Homo sapiens: one gene and its partners. The protein of the gene in region 1 purifies or fractionates together with the protein of each later gene. This does not show direct contact. Each region holds a gene or a part of one and is shown on either strand. Other genes may lie near its edges. The genes, in order: SERPINB13, ROR1, C1orf198 and TTC4.

Region 1 (7,945 bases):
TCTGATCCTAGCCCCGACCTAATGGGCTTATTCCTTTCCCATATTTGAGTAGACTCTCCTTTGGATGGCGAATACAGGAACACTGGAGCTGGAAAAGACCTCAGGAAGTCATTGGGCCTGTAATAATTTTTTAAATACAACATCAGCACGGGGTTAAAAATATGAGTGGAGTTTAGCAATAATATCACCTACTGCTACTACCACCACCACCACTGGCTCAGTTGCCAGATGCCCCTACTGCGGACTTTACAGAGGCTGAAAGAAGATAAATAACTTGCCCAAAGTAGCATCGCTCTTAAGTGACTGAGCCAGGACTTGGACCTAAGTCTGTTTAACTCCAAAACCCATCCACTCTGCTATGGGAACTTTTCTGTCTATTAGCCTTTACCAGTTCTATCATAGCGGTATTGTCCATTACACCTAAGGTCTCTTCTCAATATTAAGGGGTTATTATTATTGTATAATCCTTACAACAATATTTGTCTATGGTGATTATTATTGCTTAATAGTAAAGCAACAATATTGCTTTCATGCCTTTCTCAGTCCTTTTCCCCAGAGACCCCACACCTAAAATGCAACTCTACTGAAGTTTGTAAAACACATCTCCCCACCTCTTTTCCTTCAGCCTTTATTCTTACCACCTCTTTTTCTTCAGCCTTTATTCTTGAGCTCTTCGTCTCTTTTTCAGAGTGAAACACCTGGAAGAGATAGAAAATATTACTGTGGTGCTCAGAGAAGAGAAAACCTCACACAGAATCAGTCAGGGGAGAGTGGACGCTTCTGAAAGAAACCTCGGTGGTATATGAGGTGACATTATCTCCTTGCAAAATCAGAAAAAGGTCTGCGTTTACCTCTGATTTTTCGTGTGTGTGTGTGTGTGTGTGTGTGTGTGTGTGTGTGTGATGGAGTTTTGCTCTTTTGGCCAGGTTGGAGTGAAGTGGCATGATCTTGGCTCACTGAAACCTCTGTTCCTGGATTCAAGCGATTCTTCTGCCTCAGCCTTCCGAGTAGCTGGGATTATAAGCACCTGCCACCACACCCAGCTAAGCTCATGCCTGTAATCCCAGCACTTTGGGAGGCCAAGGCGTGTGGATCACCTGAGGTCAGGAGTTCAAGACTAGCCTGGCCAACATGGTGAATCCCCTTCTTTACTAAAAATACCTCTAATTTTTTTCTAAGGAACTCGTATTGGCTTATGTGTTCCTGTGTTCATCTTGGATGTGTCATTTTTACCCTTGTGGGGATTATGTCACTTTTTCCATAAGTACTTGGACAAGGTTACGCAACCAGTCTCTACTCAAAAAAATTTCAAGCATCTGGGAGCAGGTGGCGAGATGGTATTTGGAAAAGGAAGAGGGCTTTCCTGATAGACCTGAAATTGCTCCTTGTCTTGAAAGTCTCTGTTTCCTGGTCCACAGGTCAAGAAGAGCGTATTTTTAAGATAATGCAAGAGGGCTGACAACCCCCCCGCCAAATGAATTTGTGCATAGGAAACAAGGAAGCCCCCTGACTGCGCCCAACCTCCTCCAACTGGGAAGCGGTGGCTCCTCGGGTCCCCAGGAGGACCATGCCAATTGCAGTCAAGATGCCCACAGGGGAAAAGAAGATGTTGCCATCATTTGTTTTCTTCAGCTCTTTGAAAAGATCAAACCCAAGTCGAGTGCTGACGGCGCCAAGTGAATCCATGATGATTTTAGCGAGACCTAGAATAGCAAGAACAACAATCAAAACTGAACATTTGAATTACTCTGTGTCAGGGGAATCCTTTCTGCTTCTATTCCTCTTCTTGCATCGATCCGGAATACAGGGATTTCCACCCTTTTGGTGAAAGGTCGCTGCTGCCTGCTTCTCACGTCCTCTCTTGGCCTTCTCTTGCTGGGAGACATCCATCAATCTACTGGAGTCTTCCGTCATCCGGTGGTGCTCAGTTCTTATTTCCCCGCGGAGCAGGGTTAATGTTTTAATGGCTTTATTCTCTTGCTCTCTGTCTGACCCTGCCTGTCTCTGCCTCTCCACAGCCTCCTCTTCATGGAAGCTTCCCCAGGTAGACCCAGCCCTTGTCCAGGCGACACCAGTTTGTCCAGATGTGGGGCCCATGATAAGGCAGGGGGGTAGGCACAAGAATCTCCACGGGCCTCAAGTTCAAACAGTGCTCTCAGATCCAACCTTAGCAATAATTAAGCCGAGACTTGAATCCTTATCTGATACTATTTCTCAATTGATTCAAAATTCAGCCCAGAGAGTGACAGGATTGATTAAATCTCTTAAACCCCTTTCCCTAACTGCATACAAACTTGACTCTGGGCTGAATTTTTCTGAAGCAGAAACCACATATCTCTGGTCATGAATTATTAGGTGGAGATGAAAGGGTTTTCTTTTTTATACTTTTCTGTATTGTTTTAGGCTTGTACATGAGCTTGCATTACTTTTGTCATTTCACAAAAATAGTTTTTAAAGAGCAATTAATATTTGCCAAAAATAAATAGGTAGAACTGTTTTTATGTTTGCTTCATTACCAACTACTTTAAAACTAGTAAGTAAAGGCTTTAGGAGGAATCCTAAAACAAGAATAAGATTAATGAAAAATAAAGTTTTTTAAAGCCCACATACTTTGGGGCCTTTTGCCCTCAAGGGCTCATCCCCGCTAAGGCATCCCACATCTGATATCAAAGCTTTCATTTCAACCTCAGGTTTCCTTGCAGAGATCCTTTACAGGTTAACTCAGAAATAAAATGGATTAATTTACTGTCAAAGAAGATACATTGTCATGGCCATGTTGGAACTGAATTAAATAAAACTACCTCCAGAAAGTCTATGCAAAATAAAAGTAATTCTTTCAAACAACAAACATCATTGTTCTCAAAATACAGAGGTCTTAAATTGGAGCCAAAATAAGAACTTACCTCGGGTTTTTGGAGAGACGGTGGTGGCTGGGCAACGAACTAGGAAGCATAAGTCAATTAAGTAGCTGGGATCCTTAATTTATAGTTCTCCACATCTGCTTCAGCAGTGGTTTTCCACCTTGCGTGCACCTTAAAATCTCCTTGGAACTTTAAAAAAAATCTATGCCCAAGCCCCACCCCAGACCAACTGAGTCAGCATCTCTCGAGTGGAAACCAGGCATCAGAATTTTTATCACCGCAGGTGATTACAATGTACAGCCAACGCTGGGAACCAAAGGTGTATAGCCTGATGAACACATACATTAAATGCATACTTTACTTACCACAGATGGACAGAGCTGTGTCCTGACAAGTCATTCTCTGTAACAGAGTTATTTTTGCATTTGCATTATTTAGGAGTGCCAAATGCCAGGAAGAAAATGAAAGAAAACTATCTTGCTACAAAGGAACAAGAAAAAAGAACAAGAAAAGTTTGGGTAGGCAGCCACACACAAGCGAGCATGCGCACACACACACACGCACACACACATACACACACACACCTATTATTCTCAAGTATTCCATCCATTAATTGTAAAATATCTCATTTTAATTCATTCAATAAACATTTATCAAGTCTATTATGTACCAGGTACTGTGTCTAATGCCAATAATTCATAAGCACTCAATATCCTCACTGATTTCAGGAAAACAACACTACCAAAAAAACTCAATAGGAAATTACACCCCCAGATTCCAGTTTTTCCTGCCAACCCTGGAGCATTTCTACTGGCCCTACCAGTTCATTAAAAGAAACTGTGCTTGGATTAGTCTTAGCTTTAATCTTCAGTAAAGGGCGTGGAGATTTGCCATCGTTGCTGGGCAGCAGCTCCTAGAAGGGTGTCTTAGCTCTTCCTTCTGCCTAGAGGAACACCTCCCTAGATACGCAGGCTCGAAGGGCATATGGGTCATGTGTGTTCCAATCTCCATACTCACAATTTACTTTTTTCAAAATATTTTGATTGCTGCTCTTTAAGCAAACTCAAAGCCACATTTAGTTGATTTGCTTTTTAATAGGCACTGAGAATCTTGCAAATTGAGTAAGGTTTAGAAAGAATTAACACTTAGTGAACCCTGGATGCCAGTGAAATGGAAATGTTAGTTTTTTAAAATGGCATAAAATCTCTGAGTCGGCCATAATGCTTTATGTTTTAATATCCCTATCCATTTATATCTTCTTATTTCTTTCTCTGTGGCCCCTAGACTTCCTGTTCTATTGCCCAGCCATTTCCACAGGCCTTCTGCTTTTTGCTAAAGCTTTTGCTCTACCACCTGCTTTCACCGGGAAACCTGGCATGTCCTGAGGACTACTACATCCCATAGTCTTTTCTGGGAACGGCCACTCATATCTTGGGAAAGCAAAGTCACCATTCCTATTCTCCCTCGCACTCCCTCTTCTTCCAAGTCTTTCTTCCTTCAGTCACCTTCAATGCTCCCCTTTGGAAACTTAGACCATCACGCTGTGCTGCTCTGTCCCCAACCACAGGTCCCTCCGTGACTCTGCATATGGTCTTCCTGTCCACCCCAGCTGCTACCGCCACCCTGTACCACTTCACCATTCCTGTTGCCAGCGCCTCTCACTTCTCGGACCTTCACCTTCCCTCTTTTATAGTGGCCCACTCACACCAGGAACTGCTCTTGTTTAACACTCAAGCACCTCCATCTGGTGACAGATTCTCATCCTTATTCTCTCTAAACCTAATTTTCAACGCCTTCCCAACCTCTTATCACAGGACTCCTCCCTGTTCTGTTTTATCCATCTCTTCTTTCTAGGATCAAAACTGCCCCAGAGGTGGAATATATGTTGATGATTAAGAACCATTTAAAAAATGATTTCTATGCTAACAAGTGAGGAGAAGAAAGTTATCCCCTGAAGCAGAGTATTGATAGGTTCCCAACCCTGTTCCATAGCTCATAGTTTTGTTCCAACTTCTGTGTGTCTGTTACTGATACTGACTTGTAATATTTTTCTTCTCCAAGCATGTAATCTCGTAGTGGATGCTGCCGATGTTCCCACCAGATTTCCTTAACCTACCAGCATGCCTGTTACCCAGTTGTTGTTTTCCCTTATAATTCACAGATGCCCTTTTCTCGGCTAAAAGAGAGCTGCCTACGGGGGAAGCCAGGTACCACTCCATCCCCCGTGCCAGGGCACACCTCAGGCATGACTCACTGGCATAAGGGCATAAAAAGACAGCCCCTGGCTGGGCGCGGTGGCTCACGTTTGTAATCCCAGCACTTAAGGAGGCAAGGCGGGTGGATCACCTAAGGTCAAGAGTTCAAGACCAGCCTGACCAACATGGTGAAACCCTGTCTCTACTGAAAATACAAAAATTAGCCGGGCGTGGTGGCACATGTCTGTAATCCCAGTTACTCAGGAGGGTGGGGCAAGAGAATCGCTGGAACCCAGGAGGTGGGGTTTGGAGTGAGCTGAGATCACGCCATTGCACTCCAGCCTGGGCAGCAAGAGCGAAACTCCACCTCAAAAAAAAAAAAAAAAGAAAAAGAAAAAAAAAGACAGCTGCCTGAGTAAGACTAACTTTATAGTGCCACTTCTCCTCCAGACCTCCCCCACAAGATTAGACTGAAGCCAGTCTTTAGCAGAAACCACATGATTAACATTTCCCCTTGCCTTGTTCTGCTTCTTTCAAACAAGCATGCTCCCCATCACGCTTTTCCCAAAAATTACCTGAAAAATCCCTGTCTTTAGCTCTGCTTCTAGGGTGCCTCACCTATGACAAAAGTGTTGTGATATCTAGCCCAAGCCCTCATTATTTTTGCTTTCCAAAAATTTATTTGCAACCTTGCATATATTCTCTTTAGATAAAATTTTTAATTAGTTTATCAAGACCTATGAAAAACACTTTTGGGGTTTAGATCGGGACTCTTTAGAATTAATATGTTAAATGGGAAAATTTTTCATCTTTACATAATGAGCAAGCGGTATGATCATCTTACATGTCCTTCAATAGTTAATAGAAAGAAATCACGGGGAGAGAGACAAAGGAGAGAGAGAACCAGTTTTCTCTTTGTGATGAAAAACAAAACAAGCATGTTCACCGCCGCTGCTTCCACTCAAAATTGAACCAGAGACCCTGACAAGTGCAATAAAGCAATTAATTAACTGATGAATTAGATAATTATTTAAAAGGTAAGATAATTTAAAAAGAAAAATAGAATCATTCACAGAGGAATTGAGGTAAATGTTATGAGAATTAAAAAGTGAGTTTAGCAAGATTGCTGACTACAAGGTCAATATAAAAACTCAAGTGTTTTTAATATACTAGCAACACACAGTTAGAAACATTTTTAATATATTATTTAAAAGAGTATAAAAAAGCTATGTGAGGCTGGGCATGGTGGCTCATACCTGTAATCCAGCACTTTGGGAGGCCGAGGCTGGCAGATCAGCTGGGTTCAGGAGTTAGAGACCAGTCTGGCCAACATAGCAAAACCCCGTCTCTACTGAAAATACAAAAATTAGCTGGACGTGATGGCATGCACCTGTAATCCCAGCTACTCGGGAGGCTGAGGCAGGAGAATTGCATGAACCAAAGAAGTGGAGGTTGCAGTGAGCCGAGATAGCACCACTGCACTCCAGCCAGGGCGACAGAGCCAGACTCCATCTCAAAAATAATAATAATAATAAGGTATGTGAGGTAATACTATGTTAATTAGCTAGATTTGGTCATTATGCAATGTTCTATACTTCAAAACACCTTGTATGTGATAAATACATATAATTTTATGTCAATTGTTTTAAGATAATGAAAAAAGCATCACGTAACTAGTAAATATGAAAGATGTTTAAGACTCCATATAGAAAAAGATTAAACATAATTTAGAGAAATTAAGAAGACTGAGTAAATAGAGGGGTATATTTTATTTGTGATTTAAAAGACTCAATATTGTAAGGATGTCAATTTTCTCAAAATTAATCACTGCAATCTCAATCAAAATCTCAGGAAGCTCATTTTTTCAAAAAATTGGCCAGCTGATTCCAAATTTATATGAAATAGCCAAGGGCTAACAACAGCCATGACACTGTTGAAAGAGAAGGAGGAAGAGATAATACCTGCTCTGTCAGATAGCAAGGTTTATTATTAATTGTCAGAATGGTTTTTGGCAAAGGATAGATCAGAACAGAAGCCCAGAAAAATACTGATGCTCGTGTGCACCTTGATTTTGTTCAAGCTTGTTGCAGAGCAGTGGAGAAAGAATGGTCTCTTCAATAAATTATGTTCAGTTCATTGGATAATTACATGGGGGAGAAAGGAATCTTAACTACTACGTCACACCATATACAGATTTCCATTCTAAATGGATCACAGAGCTAATTGAAACACAAAAAAGCATTTACAGTAAGAGTAAAAATTAACAAACTGGACAACACAAAATTTAAAAGCTTTTATTAATCAAAAAACACTATCAAAGTTGGAGATACATATATATCCAAAGTTGGATATATATAGATACACCCCATGACCTAATAATTTCACCCCAGATATTTACCCAATATAAATGTGTGCTCATGGGCACCAAGAGACATGTGCCCATAGCAGCATTCATAATAGCCAAGTACTGGAAACCCAAATGTACATTAACAGCATAACACGTAAATAATGGTATGTTCACACAGTGAAATCCTACACAGCAATGACAATGAATGAACTAAAGCTACAGGCAAAAAAAAAAAAAAAAAAAAAAGATAAATATCTCAAACAATATTTTGAACAAAAGAAGCCAAATGTAAAAGAACGCATACTGTATGATTCTTTTTATACAAAGTACAAAAGCAGACAAAACTAAACTTCAGTTTACCCCTAAACAACACGGGGTTAGCGATGCCAACCCCCCTCACAGTTGAAAATCCAGGTATAATTTTTTATTTTTATAATTTTCTTTTTAGAGATGGGGTCTCACTATGTTGTCCAGGTTAGATTCTGGATTTGGGCACCTGGCTTCCAGCAATCCTTCCATCTCAGCTTCCTGAATAGCTGGGA
Region 2 (7,733 bases), on another chromosome or scaffold:
TTTAGAGAAAAAACAATAATAATAACAATTTTTTGAGTAAGTAACATGCTAAACACTTTTTTTAAAAAAATATATATTTCTACAGAGATGAGGGTCTTGCTATATTGCCCAGGCTGGTCTCAAACTCCTAGGCTCAAGAGATCCTCTCACCTTAGTCTCCCTAGTAGCTGGGATTATAGGCACAAGTCACCATGCCCAGCTCCCCAAACACTGTTTTGTGACTTTTGTATTCAAAGTATAAAGTACATTATTTTATACTAAAAATGACTTTATATGATTGGTTCTATTATCTGTCTCTCTCTCCTTTTAGCAGGTGAGAATGTTGTATCATAAAGAAATTAAACAACTTGTTCAGGTCATCTAGCCAGCTCCGTTTGATGTTAGAGTCCATTCTCTCTCTCTTTTTTTTTTTGAGATGGAGTCTCGCTCTGTCGCCCAGGCTGGAGTGCAGTGGTGCAATCTCGGCCTACTGCAAGCTCTTCCTCCTGGGTTTACACCATTCTCCTGCCTCAGCCTCCTAAGTAGCTGGGATTACAGGCACACACCACCATGCCTGGCTAATTTTTCTATTTTTTTGTTTTTAGTAGAGATGGGGTTTCACTATGTTGGTCAGGCAGGTCTCGAACTCCTGACCTCGTGATCCGCCTGCTTCGGCCTCCCAAAGTGCTGGGATTACAGGCGTGAGCCACTACGCCCAGCCCGAGTCCATTCTCTTAATCACTAACAATAGTAGCTAATAAATATTGGCTGCTTACTGTGTAACTGGTACTATGTTAAATTCTTTACAGGTATTAACTAATTTAATCTTCAGAACAAAGCTACAGGTAGGTATTATTATTATGCCTCTTTACAGATGAAGAAACTAAAATACAGGGACCCAGTACTCACAACTATTAAGAGCAGAGCAGGATTTGAATCCATGCAGTCTGGCTCCTGAACTCTTCCTGGTAAGCATCACACTACACCGTTTCTCCAAGAATAATTAATGGTTGTATTTGTTGGGTAAATCAAGCGGATGGCCCAAATGAGTCTCTCCCACCAGCAAGTTTTTGAAATGAAAGATAGTTTTCTATTTAATGCTCCCCTTGGCACCTGACCCCAATGATTTACTATTGCCCTGCTCTTGTTCCATTTTCCCACTATGCCTTACAGTGATAATAAACAGAACCGTGTGTGCCAGTGCAAGAGGCCAGGGGAGATGAGTGCCTCTGTAAGTAGCAGGAGCCTCAGCCAGTACCTCAGGTTGTGCCAGGCCCCTGGGAAGTGAGTAGCTTCACCTGGGTTCTCTTATCCATTTGTGTCAACTTCTGGCTTCCTAAAAGAGAGGGCATGGCCAAAAGAGGCTTGTGAGAGGAACATTTAGATTGCTTGGAGCTTTTATCATAGCCCACCAGGGGTTTGAGACAGTGGTGTATAGTGTAGAGAGATATTTGACTTGGGATGGAGTCCTGCCTTTTTGCTTTAATTTTTTGACTCTGGGCAAGTTTTAAAAACTCACTTCACTTAGCCCATTTGTTAAAAATGGGCTAAGACCAACCTTATTTTGATGATATAAGTAGGTTCATGCAGTAAATAATAATAACGATAATATCTGCCATTTATTAGGTGTCTCTCTGTGCCAGATACTCATAAAAGCACTTTCTAAGAGTTAACTCAATTAACACTAACCACAGCATGAAATAGGTGCTATTATTATCATCATCATTTTACAGGTGAGAAACAAAAGTACAGGCAACTAAGATATTTGTCCATAGTCACTCAGCAGAAACCAGAGAAGCTGAAGCTTGAGACCAAGCAGCCCAGCTCCCCAGCCTGTGCTCTTAAACATTGGCATTTACTGAACTTGCATAAATAAATAAATATACATATACACATATATATATTTTGCATATTATATATATTTTACCTCTTTTACTTTTTTAAACAGGAAAAGCCTTTTCTAACACCCCCCCACCCCAGCATTTTTTTTTTTTTTTTGAGATGGAGTCTTGCTCTGTTGCCCAGGCTAGAGTGCAGTGACGCTATATCCACTCACTGCAACCTCTGCCTCTCAGGCTCAAGTAATTCTCATGCCTCAGCCTCCCGAGTAGCAGGGATTACAGGTGTGTCACCACGTCTGGCTAATATTTTGTATTTTTTTGTAGAGATGGAGTTTCACCATGTTGGCCAGGACGGTCTCGAACTCCTGATCTCAAGCAATTCACCCACCTTGGCCTCCCAAAGTGTTGGGATTACAGGCATGAGCAACCGTGCCAGGCCATTGCTAACCTTTTCTTTGGAAACTTGTGTGCTATAGCTAAACTGAAGGAATCTGGGATGATTTGATGATGGTCCTTACCCAGGTCTGGACTGGTAGGTCTAGGTCCTAGTTTTGGCTCTGGCCAGCTTTGGGCAAGGCGGTTTCACTCTCCTAAGTCCCACATGTCTCCTGTATAAAATGTTGAGGGGGGTGTACTAGTTAATTTCCAAAGCCCTTTCCAGGTCTCACATTCCTTATGTCTATGATTCTGTGATTAAGTTCCTGGAAGTTTAAGTACTGATAAAAGTGCCATTAAGTTCTGTATACTCAGCACTAGCAGCTGTCTGTTACCTAAGATACCTGGGCCTAGGAGTTATAGGGTGGGGGCTGGGGGCAGGGTGGGTGGATGAGAAAGGCTCCTTGTCTGACAACTGTGTGTATTGACTGTAGACAACAGAGGACTGCCCAGCACTGTGCAGTGTAACTGAGTATCCTCTGATTTCTGGGCTGTGATATACTAAGACTGACCATCAAAGACTGTTTCCCAACAAGAGAACCTTGTGCAGTAAGTTCCTCAGGCAAGAAGCGAGATAATTGGGACAGGATTGAATAGATCTCAGGCAGAGAAACTTGGGGGACAGATCAATGTAGGTAATGAACTGGTTGACCCAAGGCCTCTCTGTCTATCATTTTTTGACCTCAGGTCAGAGCGATAGAAAGGGGGAAAACTACCGACACAGCTCCTGCCATGAAGTCCTGGAGAAGAATAAGTGACTGTTTGTCCCGCATGGGTTAGTCATTCACCTGCCTGAAGGCAAAGGGCTGGGAGTCTGGAGTCCATGACCTGCTGGGACATACTTTGGGCTGCATTTTTTCCCCCTTCTAATGTCTCAGCTCTCAGGGATCTGCTTTTCCTGGTGCCAAGGAGTATGGATGAAATTTTGTCCCTCCTCCATGCACCCCTATAAAACAAATATGATGAGAAATTAATATTTTCCAAATGGTGACCTAACCTTTGTTCATTAATTGAGCTCCTATTGCATTCCAGGTACTGTTAGAGGCCAGCAAGATACCTAGATGATTGAGACAGAGTCCTCGCCCTCCATGAAGTGACTGTTCATTTTAAAACCCTAAAGCTGGGTTCTTAGAGGCTACTGCAACAGCAACAACTCCCGAGTGAGTGCTTATCATGTGCCAGGCTCTGGTTACAGGCTTTAACTCTCTCAGTGGAAACAGCCTGAGTGCTGGCTTGGCTACCCCATGTCTGTGAGACTGTGGGCAAGTCATTTACTTTCCCTTTGAGTTTCAATTTCTAAAACTGTAATATGGGGATAATATATGTAAAACAGCTAAGAAGTATATACTTTTAATGACTCTTTTTAGTGTCAATGGAGGATTTGTGAGCAAATGCATATAAAACACAAGGCAAACAGGAGGTATTTAGTAAGTGGCCACGTGATTATTGAGAGACTATGGGCTTCTTCCTGTTCCTCCAGAGCAAGACTGACAGGTGTCCTATTACCCTTGCATCTTCAGAGCCTAGAGCACAGCCCTGAAAACAGCAGGCGCTCACCACTTTTTATGATCAAAGGCAGTCTCTACAGGGAAAGTCAAATCATTATGGGTATTTATGAATTACAAAATCCATAAAGTTAAACCAGGAGAAATGGACAAAAACACACTCATTGTAGAGGTCTTTAATGATCCCTTGGCTCATGGCAGAGCAGCTAGACAAAAAACAAACAAACAAACAAACATGCAAAGATTCAGAAGGCCTGAAAAAATAATGAATACAAAGAAGATAAATCGATACAGTATTCTATCTTCACATTCGGAAGACAAAAACACCTTTCAAAAAACCATGGGACATTGGCAAAAATAACCACAGATAATCCTCAATAAATCTTGCCAGGAGGCAGTACAGATGACATTGAATTCAGTGAGACTACAAATTAAAGACAAAAAGGCGAAGTATAAATTACTTGTGTAAGAACTCTCTCAACTCTTGGGTCCAAGAAGAAAGCAAAAGGGAAATTGTATGATAGCAATAAATGTGCCATTACCCAGAGTCACACAGCTAACAGTGACACAGCTGAGGCTGCTAGAACCTGGGTCTACTGTCGTCCAGCCACGAACTGGCTTGAGATCCCGGATAAGTCTCTCTGAGCCTCGGTTTCCCCTTCTGTCAAGTAGCCTCGAAGGTCCCCGGCGCTCGGTTCGGTGGCGAGTTTGAGGAGTGTGGGGGAGGGGAGGGGAGGGAGCGTGCCCGAGACGCGGGAGCCGCGACCGCTTTCTGCGAAGTCGGGGAGGGTGCGGGCGTTGAGAGGCTGCAGCAGAGGGCGCTGGGTCGCCAGCCTGGGCCGCGTCTCCCATTGGTCGGGGCTGGGGCGCTGGGCTGGAGAGTTGGTGGAAAGTGACAAGTTGAGCGAGAGAGGGAGCGTGGAGAGCTGGAGCAGCCGCCACCGCCGCCGCCGAGGGAGCCCCGGGACGGCAGCCCCTGGGCGCAGGGTGCGCTGTTCTCGGAGTCCGACCCAGGGCGACTCACGCCCACTGGTGCGACCCGGACAGCCTGGGACTGACCCGCCGGCCCAGGCGAGGCTGCAGCCAGAGGGCTGGGAAGGGATCGCGCTCGCGGCATCCAGAGGCGGCCAGGCGGAGGCGAGGGAGCAGGTTAGAGGGACAAAGAGCTTTGCAGACGTCCCCGGCGTCCTGCGAGCGCCAGCGGCCGGGACGAGGCGGCCGGGAGCCCGGGAAGAGCCCGTGGATGTTCTGCGCGCGGCCTGGGAGCCGCCGCCGCCGCCGCCTCAGCGAGAGGAGGAATGCACCGGCCGCGCCGCCGCGGGACGCGCCCGCCGCTCCTGGCGCTGCTGGCCGCGCTGCTGCTGGCCGCACGCGGGGCTGCTGCCCAAGGTAAGAGGCGCCCGCCGGCCCCCGCCCGCCCAGACCCCCTGACCCGTGGCCACCCTTCCGCCGTCCAGCCGGGCGCGGGACACGCAGGAAGCGCCGCGCTGGCTCCGGGGCGCGTCCGGCCACCCGCCACGGGGCTCGCCGGCGCCGCCAGGCCAGGGTTTGCCCCGGAGCCCCGCCAGGCCAGGGTTTGCCCCGGAGCCCCGCGGCGGGCCGGGGCGCGCCCAGGGACTCGTTCCTCGGTGCGCAGCAGCGATTGTCAGCGCTGACAGGAAGCGTGGAGGGGTTTGAGGGTCCTGGGGGTGATCGGGGCACTTCTGTGCAGGGCGTCCCCCCTTGTCTCCCTGGACCTCTAGCGCGCCCCAGCCGGTGTTCAGGCAAGTCTATCCTGCCCCCAAGTTGCGAGCCGGCCCGGAAGGCGCGGTCCAGGAGGGAGTTTGGATTTTCAGTGGTGCTCGCCAGAGCCCAGGCGGCTCGCGGATCGACGCAAACAAAAGCCCTGTCCTCCTGGGGCTCCGGCGGCCTCGCATCGCCACCGCCCCCGGCCCTCCGGCCCTCCCGAGAGTCATCATAGAGGCCAAAACTTGTGCGCCGCTGCAGCCGCTGCCACTTTGTGCAAAATGTGCTGTCAGAGGCGGCCTGCGGCTCCAAAGTGCTTTGGGTGTGCACGCGCGCGCGCGCGCGTGTGTGTGTGCGTGTTACAAACAAGAGGGGGAAAAGCCATCTAATGCATATTTGATTTTGGTAATCTCTAAAGACAATCGCAACAGTTAGAGAAAGACTTCACCGCAAGCCGGAGCGTCTTAGTTCGCTGCGGGAAGCTGGGGTCCTTGCTGCGTCTGAGCCGGTACACAATGAGAGGGAAGAGCCCGGCTGAGCCTGTGGAGACAACCGATTCATTCTTTGGAGGTTGGAGGGGGAAAGTTGATTAAAGTCTCCGGGGTCTCGGGCCTCACTTTTAACATGCATCCCTTGAGGGGGTGAGGAGCCTTTGGATTCTGCCCTCCCCCACTCCCAGCCCTAAACCTGAGCGGATAAATAGATCTCTGCTCTTTTATCATGCATCTTTCATTTTTAAGTTAGCACTGTGTTTAGGAAAAGAAAAAGTTCTGCGCTACTTAGCAGTTGAGAGGAAAAAGATGTATTCACTACATAGACTACGAATGCAGAATTAGTTTTTACTAAAAGTTAGCTGACTTTCTTGGTAGAAAACACACTCTGGAAGGAAGTTGTGTGAAATTTTGATTTCTTAGAGATGGTTTTTGGAAGCTAGAGTAGCATTTTCTGAGGATGATTTCTGAAACGGATCCTATAATGTGGTCGTGCTAATCTGAAAGCTCCTGGGGGTAAATAGAGCTCCTAATTGTAATTAAGATGTGCATCAGCAGGGAGTGCACCTTCCTGATGAAAAATCCTAATGAAATGTAAACAGCTTGGTCACATAGATGTTTTGCTTGGTGATGCCAAACATCTGGCCTTGCGCCACAACACCTGGGTGAAAAGTAAAAATGGGCCATGCTGCCTAAGTAATGTAAACATCCTTCTCAAGTTGGGTTGCCCAGCAAATTGAGGTGGAGATAAGCAGGGTGATTTTAACTAAGGTGGGACTCCTGGCTTGGGGCTTTGGTTAATTCAGTTATTTCCCCTGTGGACTCCTTTACTTTGTACTTCACCTTTCAACAATAGTTGCTTTTAGATCATAGCCCCTTGTGGGGGTGGGGGTCACTTACCTTTAAATACATGTCCCTGCATTGATTTTGCTCACTGTAAACACCCTTCTTATCAGCAGCCACCCCAATTCTGTCTCCTTTAACTGTTTACAGCCTTTTAGAGTTGTTTAAAAAAGGTATTGCCTATTCCATTGTAGCAGGAGGAGCCACAGACAAAACTCCTCAGACACCCAGTGAGCAATTCCTGTCCCTTTTAAGGGCTCACAACTCTAAGGGGGTCCACGTGAGAGGGTCATGATGGGTACATGACTGGGGGCTGCATGCACTGGTAATCAGAACGAAACAGAACAGGATAGGGATTTTTACACTGTCTTTCCATACAATGTCTGGAATCTATAGATAACATAACCAGTTATGTCAGGGGTCGATCTTTAAGTACCAGGCTTAGGTCAGGCAGGCCCAGGCCTGGTTTCGGGTCTGGTTCCTTGGTTTCAGGTCTGGTTCCTAGGTGCCGGGCTACCTGCCTTTAATTTCGCTTCTCTTTCCTTTTCTGAGTATAAAACAATATAAAACAATATGAGAGGGTCTGTCTCTCTTCTCTCACCATACTCTTTAGTAATGAGCTCAAATCTGTTATTATTGTCTTATTTGTTGTTTTATAAATCCCTTTCCATTTTGTGAATGTTTGATCTTTTCTCTGGGGTCAAGACTTCTGGTAGAACTCACGTTTACTTTCTCCTCTTGGACTCAAGATTCCTAAGGTAGCCCAGCCAGTGGCTCAGGAAATCAGCTTAAGCGGAGATATGTTTCATGTATTTATTTAAAAAGATACAAAACATTTCTCCCATCATTTTTCTATTTTGTTAGCCAGGAGAAGAAAACCTTTAAATTTATTTTTTCTGGTCTGTCCATTGTTG
Region 3 (7,249 bases), on another chromosome or scaffold:
ATTCTAGTTAATCATTCATTAACTCTTCGTGAATAAATGATCTCTGCACAAGCCTGGATATTTTCACAGGTTGATTTTCCTCCCCAGCCTCCACACCCCACACTCACACACCCCCTAAGACTTCACCGGCTCTTCACAGCTCTTAGTTCCAGGAGGAAGAACCGGCCATCCACAGGGTAGAGTAGAGATCCAGCTTTGGATCTTTCGAAAAAGGTAAATGGAAATCAACTGGCAAAGGTGCTCCTTCCATCCAGAATCAGACAGGCCACTGGCCACCCAAATGGAAAGAGGAAGTGCATGAACACCTGCGGGGCAGGCAGAGGGCAGGACCACTGACTGGCCAGGGTGGGGCATGATGGAGCTGGACTCCCCTGTTACTCGATATGATTCTAAATATTAATTATATACCTTAAGTCCCTTTGAAATCTGCAAAGATTAAAATAATAAGGCTTTTGGCTTTGGAAGGTGGCTCAATACAACACTCTGAGGAACGAAGACTTAGCCCAGAGCTTGGGGACAGTCAACTCTCCAGTGACTGCAACCCATATTAGCTGAAATTCCAAGGGGGTCACAGGAGGAGAAAGGGTCACACTGTGATTTCTCCCCTACTTAGTGTCGAGTCAATAGTCTTCTGTTTGCTCCAGCAAGAAATGAAGTCAAGGGGCAGATTCCTTGGGTTTCTGTAATTCTGAGCTCATAAAAAACAATAAAGTGCTTAACAAAAATAAACATGCCAAACAAAAATGTGATGGAAGCTCTGATGTCAGCCGTGGACTGCACGCTCTAGCCACAAAAAAGCACTGGCGGCAAGAACAGGCTCCCTGGGCTGTTGGATGCAAATGGAATCAGAATTGCAAAGTGGCGGCACCCACTCACACGCATACAATGCTGTCCTTTCTTCTACTCCCATGGTGACCAGCCTGCAACCAAAATGAGGCCAGGCACATGCTTTTGGACCAATCACATATGCTTTTTCTAGGACTGCTTGGAAGGCTTTCCCACCCCCCTCTCTGGCGCCTAGGATCTGAAATCATCTAAGTGTCAAAACACATCTGTTACTTAGGCCACACGACAAGAGAGTGGGCTTCATTGTTGGCCAGGACTTATCCTCAGAGTCAAATTCCGTAAGAGGCATCCATACCAAATGGGCAGCACTGAATCTCTCCAGAAACAATGACTTCTTTGGAGTGCAGAACAGAAAGATGCCCCAGGTCACCAAATCCCAGAGCAGAAAGCCAAAAAGCAGGGGGGAAGCTATAGAAAGCCACCAGAAACACAGAGCACTTGGCAATTATCAGAGGCCAGCGCTACATGTAAGAGGCTCTGCCAGTCCCCACGCAGCTCCAAGGACTCCGGGATAAACACACACACAAACAATCTTTTTCCCTAACATCCCAGAGACCTTGAGTATTTGCTCTTCTCTGGGAAATGTTCATTCAATTCAGTGTGCACCTCCTAAATCCTAAATGAAACAGAATTAAAAATAATAACATATATTTTTTGCTCATAGTGCTGGAATACATGTTTGCATCATATCGCCAGCGTTTACTTCTTTACTTGTTGATAAAAAAAATGGATACTGGAGGGCTTAAGAACTCTGTGGTTCCTAGACACTTTTATTTTTGGAGGCTGCAAGGCTGCAACCAGAGGTGTGTTGGAGCAGGCCTGCACCAACTAACGAGAGCTGATTGTAAAATTTTGAGGAATTTCTTGAACCTGTTGTTAAATATCTTGTTTAACTGCTGTGATTAAAAAGGTGAATTATACAAACTTGCAATTAAGTCCATTGTATTAAAAATAAAGGTAATATACTTCACACCCACAAGGATGGCTACTATCAAAAAGCAGATACTGGCAAGTATTGGTAGGATGTGGAGGCACTGGAACCCTTGTGCACTCTTGGTGGGAATGTAAATGATGCAGCCATTATATAAAACGGTTCGGCAGTTCCTCAAAAAATTACACATACAATTACCATTTGTTCTAGCAATTTCATTCCTAGGTATACACCCGAAAGAACTGGAAGCAGGGGCTCAGAGATCCTTATACCCCGATGTTTATAGCTGTGCCATTCACAATAGCCAAAAGATGAAAGCAACCAGGTATCCACTGACAGATGATGAATGCATAAACAAAATGTGGTCTATCCATCCAATGGAATATTATTCAGTCTTAAAAAGGAAGGAAATTCTGATACATGCTTCAACATGGATGAACCTTGAAGACATTATGCTTAGTGAACTAAGCCAGACACAAGGATAAAAATCATGTGATTCCACTTATATAAGGTACCTAGAGTAGGCAAAATCATAGAGACAGAAAGTAGAATAGAGGTTATCAGAGACTGAGGCCAGGAAATGGGGAGTTATTGTTTAATATATACAGAGTTTCATTGTTTAAAGGATATAGTTTCACTTTAAATAATACACGAGTTCTGGAAATGGATGGTGGTGATGATTGCACAACATTGAGACTGTACTAAATGCCTCGGACTATACACAGAAAAGTGGTTAAAACGGTAAATTTTATGTTGTATGTATTTTACCACAATAAAAAGTCATGGAAAGACATGGAGGAACCTCAAATGAATATTATTAAGTGGAAGAAGCCAATCTAAAAAGGCTACATATTGTATGATTCCAGCTATATGATATTCTGGAAAAGGCAAAACTACAGAGACAGTAAAAAGATCAGTGGCTGCCAGAGCCTGGGGGGCGGGAGGCATGAGCAGGTGGCACACAGAGGATTTCTGTTAAGGCAATGGATCCCCTCTGTATGATACCATCATGGCGTATACCTCCAAGAGCGACCCCTAGTGTAAACCAGAGACTTCGGTTGACAATGATAAAAACAATGCAGGTTCACTGATTGTAATCAGTGCACCACTCTGGTTTAGGATGTTGGTGGTGGGAAAGGCTGTGTGCATATGCACGTCTGTGTGTACATTTTGGGAAAGGTCTGTGTGGGAACTCTCTGTACTTTCCGCTCAATTTTGCTGGAACCTAAAACTACTGTAAAAACTGAATTTTTTTAAAGTGTGCCCCCCCCAAAAAAAGTAATAAACACTAGAAACTCATCATTTCAATACAGTTACTATTATCCATGGTCTTAAGGTTGTTTGCATCCATTGTATGTGTAAGGTGGAAATACCATATAGCGCGGTGCCCAGATATGCATCCCGTGAGTCACGCCAACAGCGTGCAACGGGCCATGGTGGAGTATCTGGTCATGGCAACCAGCAAATGCTAGAAGTCAGGGCTAGTTCGCCTCACTCCCCCAGAGCCGGCTCCAGCATACCACAGGCTACAACCATAACAAACATCCTGATATTCATCACATTCTGCAAGTGTTTCTGGTGTGTGGATGGATAGCGCCTGCAGAGGGAGCTGTCCAGCATGGGGGCTCCCTTAGGGCCTCCACAAGCTGTTCCAGGAAAAACAGCTAGGCGGGGAGTGAGGGGCTTTCTGGGGTGATTCTAAAACAGCATCAGGATCTTGGAACACGGCAACACGCGTATTGATGCCAGAAATGGTCATCGTCTTCCTGAAATCCATAAATAAGGAGAGTTTCTGGTTGACACCTGTGGCATCTTGGCTTGAAGGTAAGAAATGTAAACTGAGAAATTCTATAAGCTAGAGAAATAAGGCTTAGAGAGCAGAGCATGTGAGCAGGACAGAAAGTCCCATAGGTTGCAGAGTGTGTCACCCTGTAGTGATGCCAGGTGGCCTGGCCATCTTGGTTCATCCAGGGTGGAACACGTTGTTCCTGGTGAGCTGTGTCGTGCCCATCACTCCCTCAGAGATGCCAGAGCCTGTCCTGTGGATCAACTGTAAGGTTTAATTACCGAGTGACAACACTGGTTGTTGTCACTGATAATGACAGCACCCTGGACATGTTGACCAACTGAGGGCCTCCCAACCACAGCTCCATGCACAACTGTGCTTCTGCTATAGTTATTTCTATATTTATTCCTCCACAAATAAATATATTACAGGAGTGAGGTAATCACATTCCTTGGCATTTACCCAGATGAACTGAAGACTTACGTCCACACAAAAAACCTACACACAGATGTTTTACTCATAATTGCCAAAACTTAGAAGCAACCAAGATGTGTTTCAGTTATTGGATAAGTAAACTGTGATACATCCAGACAATGGAACATTATTTAGCAAGAAAAAGAAATGAGCTACCAAGCCATACAAAGACATGGAAGTACCTTAAATGAGTATCACTAAGTGAAAGAAGCCCATCTCAAAAGGCTGCATACTGTATGAATCCAACCATATTACATTCTGGAAAAGGCAAAACCATGGAGACAGTTAAAATATCGTTGGTTGCCAGGGGTTGGGGGGATGGAAGGATAAGTAAGTGGAACACAGAGAATTTTTAGGGCAGTGAAACTCCTCTGTGTGATATTATAGTGATGGGTACATGTCATTATTCATTTGTCAAGATCCATACAGTGGACAACCCAAGAGTGAACCCTAAACTATGGACTTTGGGTGGTAACGACGTGTCCATGTACGTTCATCAGCTGTCACAAATGCACCACTGTAGCGTGGGAGCCAGAGAGGCAATGAGAACTTTGTACCTTCTGCTCAATTTTGCTGTGAATCTAAAATTGCTCTAAAAAATTAAGTCTATTCAAAAAGAGGAGAGTAAGGAAGAATGATTAAAATATGTTCTTTTTTTACCAACTGCTTATTTTCAGCAAGCATTGTTTACATATTTATGGAATCCATGCTTTTCCCTTTGACTTGTAATATTTTTAACTCTGCTGAGATAAGGGGGTTTCCATAACTGGAAATACAACACTGCAGTTGCAAAGACAGAAAAACAGTCCTGATTTAACCATGGGGCATGTTTTCCACCATGAATACGAATCCAGAAACTCAAGCCTCCATAGATTACAGCAAAACAAAAACTCAGCATGAGCATGGTAATGGAAACAGGATACAGAGTAGGTGGAGGAAATGCTAAAGAAATGAGCAAAATATGACAGGAAGTCTAAACAAATAGGTCTCATCTTCCTTCATTTATTCAGAAGAAGAAGAAGAAGAAATAGATATTTTCTCCAGTACTATGGGAATCCCTTGCTTAGAGTGTAAAAGTGACTCTTATCAATTAAAAGATGACTCCACACCTGTCGCCATGCTTCCTGCCCTCCCTCCCCGCAGGTCTGTGACCAAGTCACTTCATTTCTTTGCTAAACCTGTTCCCTGGCTGCCACTGGGCCACCCTCCCACAGGAGCCAGCAGGCAGAGGTGCCTGGGGAGGAGAGGCCTAAGCTGCTGCCTGAGCTCCCAGGGCAGCAGGCCACGTGCTACTCAGGGCAGAGAACCCACAACATAAAAGGGAAGCTCACAGAACAGGCCCGACCGCCCTCTCCTCTCAGCCCGTGGAACTGGAATTGAAGCAGGGCCATCTCAACTCCTGCCCAGGGCCCCAGGTAGAGGGACTCAGAAAACCCTGCTATCCTTTCTAAAACATCCATGGATACAGCAGGCACAAGGTGGGAATCATAATTCAAACATCCACCTTCCTTAAAAAATGAGTCCAAAATGCTGAGAAAGCAACTCCCTAATTTTCTTTTTCCTTTTTTTTATTTTTATTTTATTTTTTTAATGTCAGATTTCAAAAAGAAAAGGCCAGTCTACTAAAGGGAAAGGGGATGAGGAAACTTCATGTGTCATTGGTCCTGCATTGAGAGGCCACACAGCAGCCAAACTCAAATCTAACAAAGATGTAAGGCTCAAGAAAGTTCTGAAGCGATTGATTCTACCAGCTGTTTTATAATGCTCCTTCTGCCTGGTTTGAAACTTTTAACAATAATGTACAGGTAAAAACTTTTGTAATAAATTGGTTTATTTTAGAAAGCAAACCTCTAGGCTGGCCAGCACACAGGCCCCTAGGTTTGCAGAAAGGTCTTTTGCAGGTAGCCCTAATGACACAGAGCGGGTGTAGCAGCTCAGCAGTTTGCTAAACATAGGTACCCATAGCCGCCTCTAGCCTAAGGACTAAGAAGCCACAGGCAATGCAGCAGACATAGGGAGGCAAAAACAGCTTCAGAAAAGGAAGCTAAGGCCAAGAGGAATAAGAGAGCAACAGCAAGTCCTCAGGTTCCTGTAGGAGGAGCAGAGATGAAGGCACTGGAGGGACACGGCAGTGGATCATGCCAAGCTGTTGAAGAGGGGACAGAGCTGTCTGGCTCCGGGTTCTTTAAAAATCCACGTTCCACAACATGTGAAACCCCGATTAGGGATATTGAAACACCCTTCTTGCCCAGCTCCACCGTATGGAGAGATGGAAGAGGCAAGTAGGTCCACGCGAACAAGACGCACCAGCTGCCAAAGCTCCCCCAGTCATCTGCTTAGGGCCCATCTGGAGCCAAGAATGTATCACAGAACGCAGAACCCTGTAACTCTCACCATGTACTCAGATCTTGCTAGATCAGTGACAAGAAGATTGGGGGCAGGAGCAGGGAGGAACACATTCCTAACAATTCAGAGGTGTGTGGGGTTTTCTCCTTGCAGATAACAGGAAACAGCAGAAGCAAACAGGGTGATCCCTCTAAAATAAAAACTTTTCCCCTCCCAAACTAAGCCATTCCCGAAACCCTACTGCTGGAGGAAGAACGTGGCAATCAAGCAGCGTGGGTGAAAGACTGTCAAAAGCATCCATTTGCAAACCTGCCTTAATGTTCTTACCAAAATACTGGACCCAAAGTGCACGGCCCCAGTGTCTGGGCCTGCTCCAAGCCAGACCAGCGAGTTGGAAAGAAACTCTGTGAGCCATTGGTTCTGCCACCAGACTTCACAGAGAGGCAAACTACCCCTTAAGAGGGGTGGCACCTTGCTGCTGGCATGGCCAGGACAAGAATCCAGGACATGGGGCTCCACCGGCTCCTCTCCTTTTGCTGGTTGAGAAGCGTTCTTCCAGCAGCAGCTCCAGATTCTCCACAAAATGGGGTTGGGTGGCTGTGGGAAGGGGCCGGGGCCTAGGTTGAAGCTATACTTCCATGCTTTTTTACTGAGATCATATGTTCACACGTGGGGATTTTTAAAGGAGTTGGTAAAGATTATGGGAGGATGAAGTACCCTAAGCTAAAATGCCTTGTCTCTAATATAATGGGCCTTGAGAAATATTTGCTCTGTTGATTTCCAAGGAAGCAAGAACCTAAAGACTGATAGGTCCCTTCACGGCTTCAATACTCAAAGGCAGCAGCCTCCTTCCCTGAGGAGAACCA
Region 4 (7,826 bases), on another chromosome or scaffold:
CATGCGGGCTTCAGCGTCCAGAGGAGGTACATAGACCAGCAGGCGGTGAGGTGTCAGATAAGGCTTCTGAGGGAAGAAACTCCCCTGCAGGGGGTTTGGAAAGAACATGTATGGAAGGGAGCAGGACACATGGAACCAAGGAACAACTGCAGTCCTTCAGTGCACACAGCCCAGAGAGAGAGGGGAGAGGAGTTCCAGGCTAGAGCCACGGAAGCCTTGGAGGCTGTGTTAAGGAGGGAGACTTCATCCAGATAGGAGTGGTAAGGCATTGTGGGATGCTAAGCAGGGGAGGGATGTAGACAGATGCCTGCTTTAGAAGGCACCTCCTCCTGGGGATACAGGAACCCTCAGGCACTGCTGGTAAGATGGTAAATTGGTGCCGCTCTTCTGGAATCTGTAGAAATCTGTCATTATTCGGTCACTTCAGTCTTATTAAGTTCATGCATACCCACGACTGAGCAGTTCCACTCATGGATACATAGCTCGGGGGAATATTCCACAGGTCCATAAAGAGAGATGCATGAGGAAGTTGATCAGTGTTCTTTGTGGTGGTGGGGAGAGGAGGCAGCCTGGGTATCCACCCCTTGGGAGAGTATGTGTGCCGTGGAGCCCTGCACAGCAGTTCGGGGCTGCCAGATGGGACCTAAAACCCAGTGCTGAGGGGAAAAAGTGTATCAAGAATGTATACACAAAAGTTGGCCAGGCGCGGTGGCTTACTTCTGTAATGCCAGCACTTTGGGAGCCTGAAGCGGGTGGATCACCTGAGTCAGGAGTTCGAGACCAGCCTGACAAACATGGTTAAACCCCGTCTCTACTAGAAATACAAAATTAGCCAGGCGTGGTGGCGCATACCTGTAATCCCAGCTACTCAGGAGGCTGAGGCAGGAGAATCGCTTGAACCTGGGAGGCGGAGGTTGCAGTGAGCCAAGGTCGCGCCATTGCACTCCTGCCTAGGCAATAAGAGTGAAACTCCATCTCAAAAAAAAAAAAAAAAAAAAAAAAGAATGTACACACAAAAGAATTCACATTTTGGAAGAACACTTAGAAACTGAGAAGACACAGTAAACACACTAGAGGCCAGGTGTGGTGGCTCATGCCTGTAATCCCAACACTTTAAGAGGCCAAGGTGGGAGGATCACTTGAGGCCAGGAGTTCAAGACCAGCCTGGGCAACATAGTGAGACCTCCATCTCTATAAAACAAAACAAAAAAATGCTAATAAAACATGCTAGAATGATTGATTAGGGTAAGGAGGAGGGCTTTGGGGTATAAAAGGGAGTAAATAAAAAAGGAAGCAGAAGAAGCTCACTATGTCATGGAGTGAAAGGGCTGGATGGCAGGGTGGACAAGAGCACCATCAGGGAGACTTAGCCAGAAACTGCTGAGAGAACAGTGACCAGACCTTGCAGCACAAAATGGAGAGGATGGCCAGGCCTGCAGGAGACTGAGGAAGGGGATTTTCAGAGCCTAGTGGTTGACAGAATGGAGGAGGGAGGAGGGAGAGGGAGGAGCTGAGTTTGGCACCCAGATTTCTGGGTGGATGACTAAGCCAATGGAGCCCACACTAAGTGGTGAACCCAGGACCAGGAGCAGGTTGTGGGGCAGGGGATGAGTTCAATATGGGCATGGTAAGCTTGAGGGACTGTGCAGCAAGCTAGTGGAGATATCCACAGGGCAGTTGGCTGCCGCTGTGGTCTGAATGCTGTGTCCCTGCAAATTCATATGAAATCCGAACCCCCAAGGTCATTATATTAGGAGGTGGGGGCCTTTGAGAGGTGATTAGGGATTAGTGAATGGGATTAGTGCCCTTATAAAAAAGAGCCTTCAGAGAGCTCCCTCACTACTCACACCATGGGAGGACACTGAGAAGATGGCATCTGTGAACCAGAAAGCAGGCCCTCACCAGACACCGAATCTGCCAGGCCTTGATCTCGGACTTCCCAGCCTCCACAACTGTGAGAAATAAATGTTTGCTGTTTACACACCAGAGTTGATGGTATTCCGTTATAGCAGCCTGAATAGACTATGGCGGGCACAAAGGGACACGGGTGGAGCTCAGCTGAGGGACCTGAGAAGGAAGCAGATTTGGGATTCATCTGTGTGTAGGGGCTGGGGTACAATTTCCCTGGGAGAGTATGTAGAGTGGGCAGAGACATCAGCCTGTGGAGCACCTAACTTAAGCTCCTGTTGGGGGTGAGGAACCCATGATGTTGACCACACAATCATCTTCTAATAAATGGTAGCCCAGGCCATTGGTATTCTGGGCCTGAGAGAGAGAGTAGGAAATGGGGAGATTCATTTGCACAATCCTTTCCATCACTGAGAATGTTCACAAACATTGCCTCCTTGGAGTCTTACAGTAGCCCTGTGGATTATGGGGAAGGCAGAATGGATTATGGGGAAGGCAGACTGGATTATGGGGAAGGCAGACTGGATTATGGGGAAGGCAGACTGGATTATGGGGAAGGCAGACTGGCTTTATTGCCCACATTCCACAGATGAGGACACAGCTTAATGAGGGATGGGCCTTGCCCAAGGTCATGCAAGGTAACTAATGGAAGTGTAGGTCCCGAAGATCTCCAGACTCCTATACCTGAACCCTTCCACCCAGAACCACTTCTGCTTTCATGGGCTAGGACCCAGGTCTAGGGTGGCCTTGACAGATGACAGCTGCTATATTTTGGGTCTGGGTGGCCCCTAAGCACAGCAAAGGCTGATCGACTCAGTTATCGGCCAAGACCACTAAGTAGTTTTGAGTTGGAAGGTTCAGAGTGTGCTGGGCAAGTCACTTTGCTTCTCTTAGGTTCCCCTATTGTTACCTATAAAATGGGTTCATACCTCACAGTGTTCTTATGGGAATCAAATGAGAAAAAAAAGAAAGCAAAAAGACTCTGTAGGCTCTGGACTCAGTAAAGGAAAAGATGATGAAGAGGAGAATAAGGGAGGGAACCAGGATTAGGGAGCAGGGCTGGAGGAGGAAGTGTGGAAAAGGAGGTTTGGATTTGGAGGGAAGGGAGTGCTAGGACCAGATGTTCTGCTGGGTGTGGAAGAATCAGAAGGGAAAAGATAAAGTCCTGGCACTGGAAGGCTCATGGTCCCCATGCGCCATCCTTAGCCATGCTGTCTCCATCCCCATATCAAAGAATGACTACCCTGCCAGCTCCACTGCTGGGCTTCAGATCTCTGTCTTACCTTGGTCTCTTATCAGCATCCTCCTTGTCAATCTCTTAACCAACCTCCCCCCATCAATGCTTCACCTGGCAGCCCAGGCCTTCCTAAGACAAATGTGCTCACGGCCATTGCTCCTCTTAGGTCTTTTCAGTGACTCATTATCCTCTGCAGGACCAAGGTCAGTGAGGCAGGCAGGCCTTCTGGCCCCTACCCACTTGCCGGCCACACCTCTTTTTTTTTTTGAGGTGGAGTCTTGCTCTGTGGCCCAGGCTGGAGTGCAGTGGCGCAATCTCGGCTCACTGCAACCTCCACCTCCCGGATTCAAGCGATTCTCCTGCCCCAGCCTCCCCAGTAGCTGGGACTACAGGTGCGTGCCACCACGCCTGGCTAATTTTTTGTATTTTTAGTAGAGACGGGGTTTCACTGTGTTAGCCAGGATGGTCTCGAACTCCTGACCTCATGAACTGCCCGCCTCAGCCCCCCAAAGTGCTGGGATTACAGGCGTGAGCCACCGTGCCCGGCCCTGGACACACCTCTTAACACTTGCAGTACCCAGCATGGCGGGCCTGTGCACACCTCCATGCCTCTCTCCACATATGAGCTCCCACTGCCTAAAACGCTGAGTCCTCTATCCATCTGCAGAGACCTTCCTCAGCTCTGATCTCAGCTCTGCATCACCTTGAATCCCACCCCTCTGAGCCTTCACTGAGCAGACCTGTGACCCAATGCCAGTTTAGATTGGTGTGCTTCCTGTCTGCTTTTCATTCCAGACCAGGCTAGGAGCTCCCCAAGGCTGTAGCCCCGGTGCAGGGACCTGCAGCCATTTGCTGGCCGGTAGAGAGGCTGCAGGAAGCCACAGCGGCTGCCTAACCAGGCCTGCAGCACCTGGACCGAAGACCCTTTTCCATCTGAACTGTGGGAGTTAGGGGTGGCTAAGCTCAGAGACAGAGGTCTGATCAGTCTCTCCTTTCCTCGAAACTCTCCAAAAGGTCCCATACCACTGAGGAAATAGCCAAATCCTCATAGTCACAGCCCTTTTGTCCTCCCACCTCATCATCTCCTTGCCCCCTTCCTCACTCTGCTTCAGCCCCACTGGCCTCCTTGCTGTTCCCCAAGCACAGAAGACTCTCCCGCATCAGGCTTCCGGACTGTTCCCTGTTCCTTCCATGGGAATGCCTTTCCCAGACCCCTCCTAGTCACTCCCAGGCCTCTGGCAGAATGTCTACCCATCCTGTTTAAAACTTTTCCCCAATAGCTCTTGCTACCCCTGACAAACTCTTACATCTCAACTATTGTCGTTTCCTCCCCACTGCCTTAGCAACTCCTAGAGGGCAGAGATTTCATCTGCTCTGCCCACCGCTATATAGCCAGCCACTAGAACAGGCCGGAAGCGCAGAAAGAGCTAAGTAAGTATGTGTTGACTGACTGACGAACAAATGAATGAAGTGAGATGGGGGCTTTGGGGATTCGGGTTCACGCACCACCCCAAAAGCATTCGAAGGCCGGGCGAGGCCAGGCACTGCCGAGGAGGGCGGGCCGGGGGAGGAGCGTATTGGCCACGCCCGGCCACGCCCCCAGGCCGGCGGAACCCAAGGCGCGGGGACCTGCGCTGCCGGGAGGATTGAGGGAAGGGAACCCGCGCCGCCGGAAGGAGCCGCTCGCTTCACGGCGCTGGGACCCGGGCTGGAAGGCAGGGCATCAGCTATGGAACAACCTGGGCAGGATCCCACCTCAGACGACGTCATGGACTCGTTCCTGGAAAAGTTCCAGAGCCAGCCTTACCGTGGCGGCTTTCATGAGGACCAGTGGGAGAAGGTGGGCGGTCCTGGGGTCTCCCCACGTGTGTAGGGGCGTCGTCCGGACTCGTGGGGCACCCGGGCTCTGGGGCACCTCCTTCAATCCCAGATCCCTGGCGCTGCCAGCCGATCGCTGGTTTCTAGTTGAGTATTGAAAATCGGCCTCGAGGTTTTGAGTCGCTTCTTAAGCTGAGAACCTAGGTTTTGGAGTCAGGCCTGTGACTCCACCACTTAACTGGCTCTGATATGAGTCAGTTACTTAACTTCTCAGAGTCCGTTTCCTCATCTGTAAAACTGCGCGAACTATATCACCAATAGCAAAGATGAAATGAGACAGTTGGTAAAGTGCCAAGAACATAAGGGCGCTCAATTAATGGTAATTCCTGCCGCTCTTGTAGAATGTGAGAACTAAAACAATCATTAGAGACCATTACACCACACTCCCATTTTACAGAAGGGAAGCGGAGGCCTGAATGGATACAGCTAGCTGTGATGATTTGCAAATCATGATGAGTAAAAAAACTTTGGTAATGAGTCATGGAATTGGATCTGCTCAGTAGAAAAGCTTATTCATGTAGTTCATTCTTAACCATTTACAGGAATTTGAAAAGGTCCCCCTATTTATGTCGAGAGCGCCATCAGAAATTGATCCCAGGGAGAATCCTGACTTGGCTTGTCTCCAGTCAATTATTTTTGATGAGGAGCGTTCTCCAGAAGGTATCTTAACATGACTAATATTTGTTTTGTGTTTCCATTGAACTGAAATTAAGTGTGGGTTAGAAGCGTTCTGATTGATAACAAGAAGTAGTTAGCCTGAGCTAACTTGTCATTATTCATTCCAATATACTTCTTTTTGTACCTACTAAGTGGTAAGGACTGGGGATACAGGGGTGAATAAGACACAGTTCCACCCTCCAAGGTCAGGCTCAGTGAGAAGCCTTTTGTCTTAAAGAATCAAGACAAACTTATGCTATAAGTGTCAACATGTAGGTGTATACTACAGCTGTAGTGGGTCCTGTTGGAACACTTTAAGGAGCAGGAGTGGATTCACAATAGATAGGAAATTTGAGCTGAATCTTTGTAATTTTGTAGGCTTTTACTAGGGTGAGGAGGGGAATTTGCACTCCACAGAATAAACAACATAAGCAAAAGCAGAAGTATAATCAATCCCCCTGCCCCTCACTGATTTCTTCAGTGATTAAAAAAAATTCTTTTCTTCAACAGCTAGGATGAGTGTACTTTTTTCCTTTATACTTCTTTTTTTTGGAAAGCACTTAGTAATCTACCTTGTAAGATATTTGGAATTAGCATTACATTTGTGCGACTTTGTCCATGTTGATACCCACTTTTATCATAACATCGAGTTTCCTTTCCCTATTGGTTTCTTCGCTTTGGTGTGTCATATAGTACATTATTACATGATTTAGAATCTATTTTTAATGAGCCTTTTAAAAAGTAAGCAATAGTGATTATTTTTCCTCTTCTTTGCAGAACAGGCCAAGACCTATAAAGATGAGGGCAATGATTACTTTAAAGAAAAAGACTACAAGAAAGCTGTAATTTCATACACTGAAGGCTTAAAGAAGAAATGTGCAGATCCTGATTTGAATGCTGTCCTTTATACCAACCGGGCAGCAGCACAGTACTATCTGGGTAATTTATAAGTGCTTTCTGAAGAATAAACTTATGATACAAGCCATTATGATGGTTAGTGGAGGTTTGAGAACATCAGAGGATGAGGGGCTGTTATCCCAGAAACCCAGACTAAGGATAGTTTACTCTGATTGAACTCTGGTCTTCCAAGTTGACATGATGAAAAGAGAAACAGGATGGATTGTGTAATTCTTACTGTCTCAACCCAAAAAGTGACTTGGTCACTCAAGTAAGGTGTTTGATGTATGAGGCAGTATGTTCTGAGATTTTTGAGCCCAAGGGCTTCTACTCTCTCAAAAAATGTGTTTTTCTGGCCTTTTATCCTCTTTTCAAGGATGCTAGCAGGAGTAAGGCAGTAGAGATCTTTAGGTGAGATAAGCTATTTTAATCTAAGGGAGAATATCTCAAAGCGTTCTGTGGGACCTTTGAGTTAAAAATATTTTTTGGTTGGGTGCAGTGGCTCATACCTGTAATCCAAGCACTTTGGGAGGCTGAGACAGGAGGATCGCCTGAGGCCAGGAGTTCAAGACCAACCTGGGCAATATAGTGAGACCCTGTCTCTCCAAAAATTTAGCTGGGCATGGTGGTGCCTGCCTGTAGTCCTAGCTACTTGGGAGGCTGAGGCACGAGGATCGCTCAAGGCTACAGGGAGCCATAATCACACCACTGCACTCCAGCCTGGGTGACAAAGTGAGACCCTGTTTCTAAAAAGTTGCTTGGATGAGGAATTTTAACTCATTTATTTATTCATATTTTTTACTTTATTACATTTTTTTGTAGAGACAGGGTTTTGCCATGTTGCCCGGGCTGGTCTCGAAATTGGGCTCAAGTGATCCATCCGCCTCAGCCTCCCAAAGTATTGGAATTACAGGTGTGAGCCACCGCACCCAGGAGATTGAGGAAGTTTGGAAAATGCTGCTTCTTAGAGATTTACAGTACATGTTAACATGTTAAAGACACTGAGATAGCCTGCAAGAAAATAAATTTACCCTGGGTTTCTCAAATTTTGTAAGCCTCCTCTTCAGGTAACACCAACATCATGCAGGTTCTGTAGTCGTAAATTTGGGAAATGATTATTTAAGTAGTATTGCTGGTGACTAGTCTTGGTTATGTTAGACCTGTGGGTTTTTTTTAAAAATAATTTATTTTTTTAATTGAGACAGGGGTCTCGCTATGTTGCCCAGGCTGGCCTTGAACTCCTGAGCTC

What was found.
Region 2: the proteins of SERPINB13 (region 1) and ROR1 purify together in Homo sapiens (co-immunoprecipitation; 3 studies listed by BioGRID and IntAct, with this or other methods). This does not show direct contact.
Region 3: the proteins of SERPINB13 (region 1) and C1orf198 purify together in Homo sapiens (co-immunoprecipitation; 3 studies listed by BioGRID and IntAct, with this or other methods). This does not show direct contact.
Region 4: the proteins of SERPINB13 (region 1) and TTC4 purify together in Homo sapiens (co-immunoprecipitation; 3 studies listed by BioGRID and IntAct, with this or other methods). This does not show direct contact.

The regions. Positions count from the first base shown.
Region 1 is NC_000018.10:63,582,409-63,590,353, reverse strand, and holds the start of SERPINB13 (serpin B13), read right to left. Parts: upstream 3,012-7,945; 5' UTR 2,904-3,011; intron 1,704-2,903; 5' UTR 1,687-1,703; coding exon 1,522-1,686; intron 699-1,521; coding exon 639-698; coding exon of another isoform or gene 612-638; intron 1-611. UniProt on the Homo sapiens protein: May play a role in the proliferation or differentiation of keratinocytes.
Region 2 is NC_000001.11:63,769,360-63,777,092, forward strand, and holds the start of ROR1 (inactive tyrosine-protein kinase transmembrane receptor ROR1 isoform 1 precursor), read left to right. Parts: upstream 1-4,657; 5' UTR 4,658-5,058; coding exon 5,059-5,149; intron 5,150-7,733. UniProt on the Homo sapiens protein: Has very low kinase activity in vitro and is unlikely to function as a tyrosine kinase in vivo. Receptor for ligand WNT5A which activate downstream NFkB signaling pathway and may result in the inhibition of WNT3A-mediated signaling.
Region 3 is NC_000001.11:230,858,356-230,865,604, forward strand, and holds part of C1orf198 (uncharacterized protein C1orf198), read right to left. Parts: intron 1-7,249.
Region 4 is NC_000001.11:54,711,035-54,718,860, forward strand, and holds the start of TTC4 (tetratricopeptide repeat protein 4), read left to right. Parts: upstream 1-4,826; 5' UTR 4,827-4,874; coding exon 4,875-4,985; intron 4,986-5,565; coding exon 5,566-5,683; intron 5,684-6,457; coding exon 6,458-6,619; intron 6,620-7,826.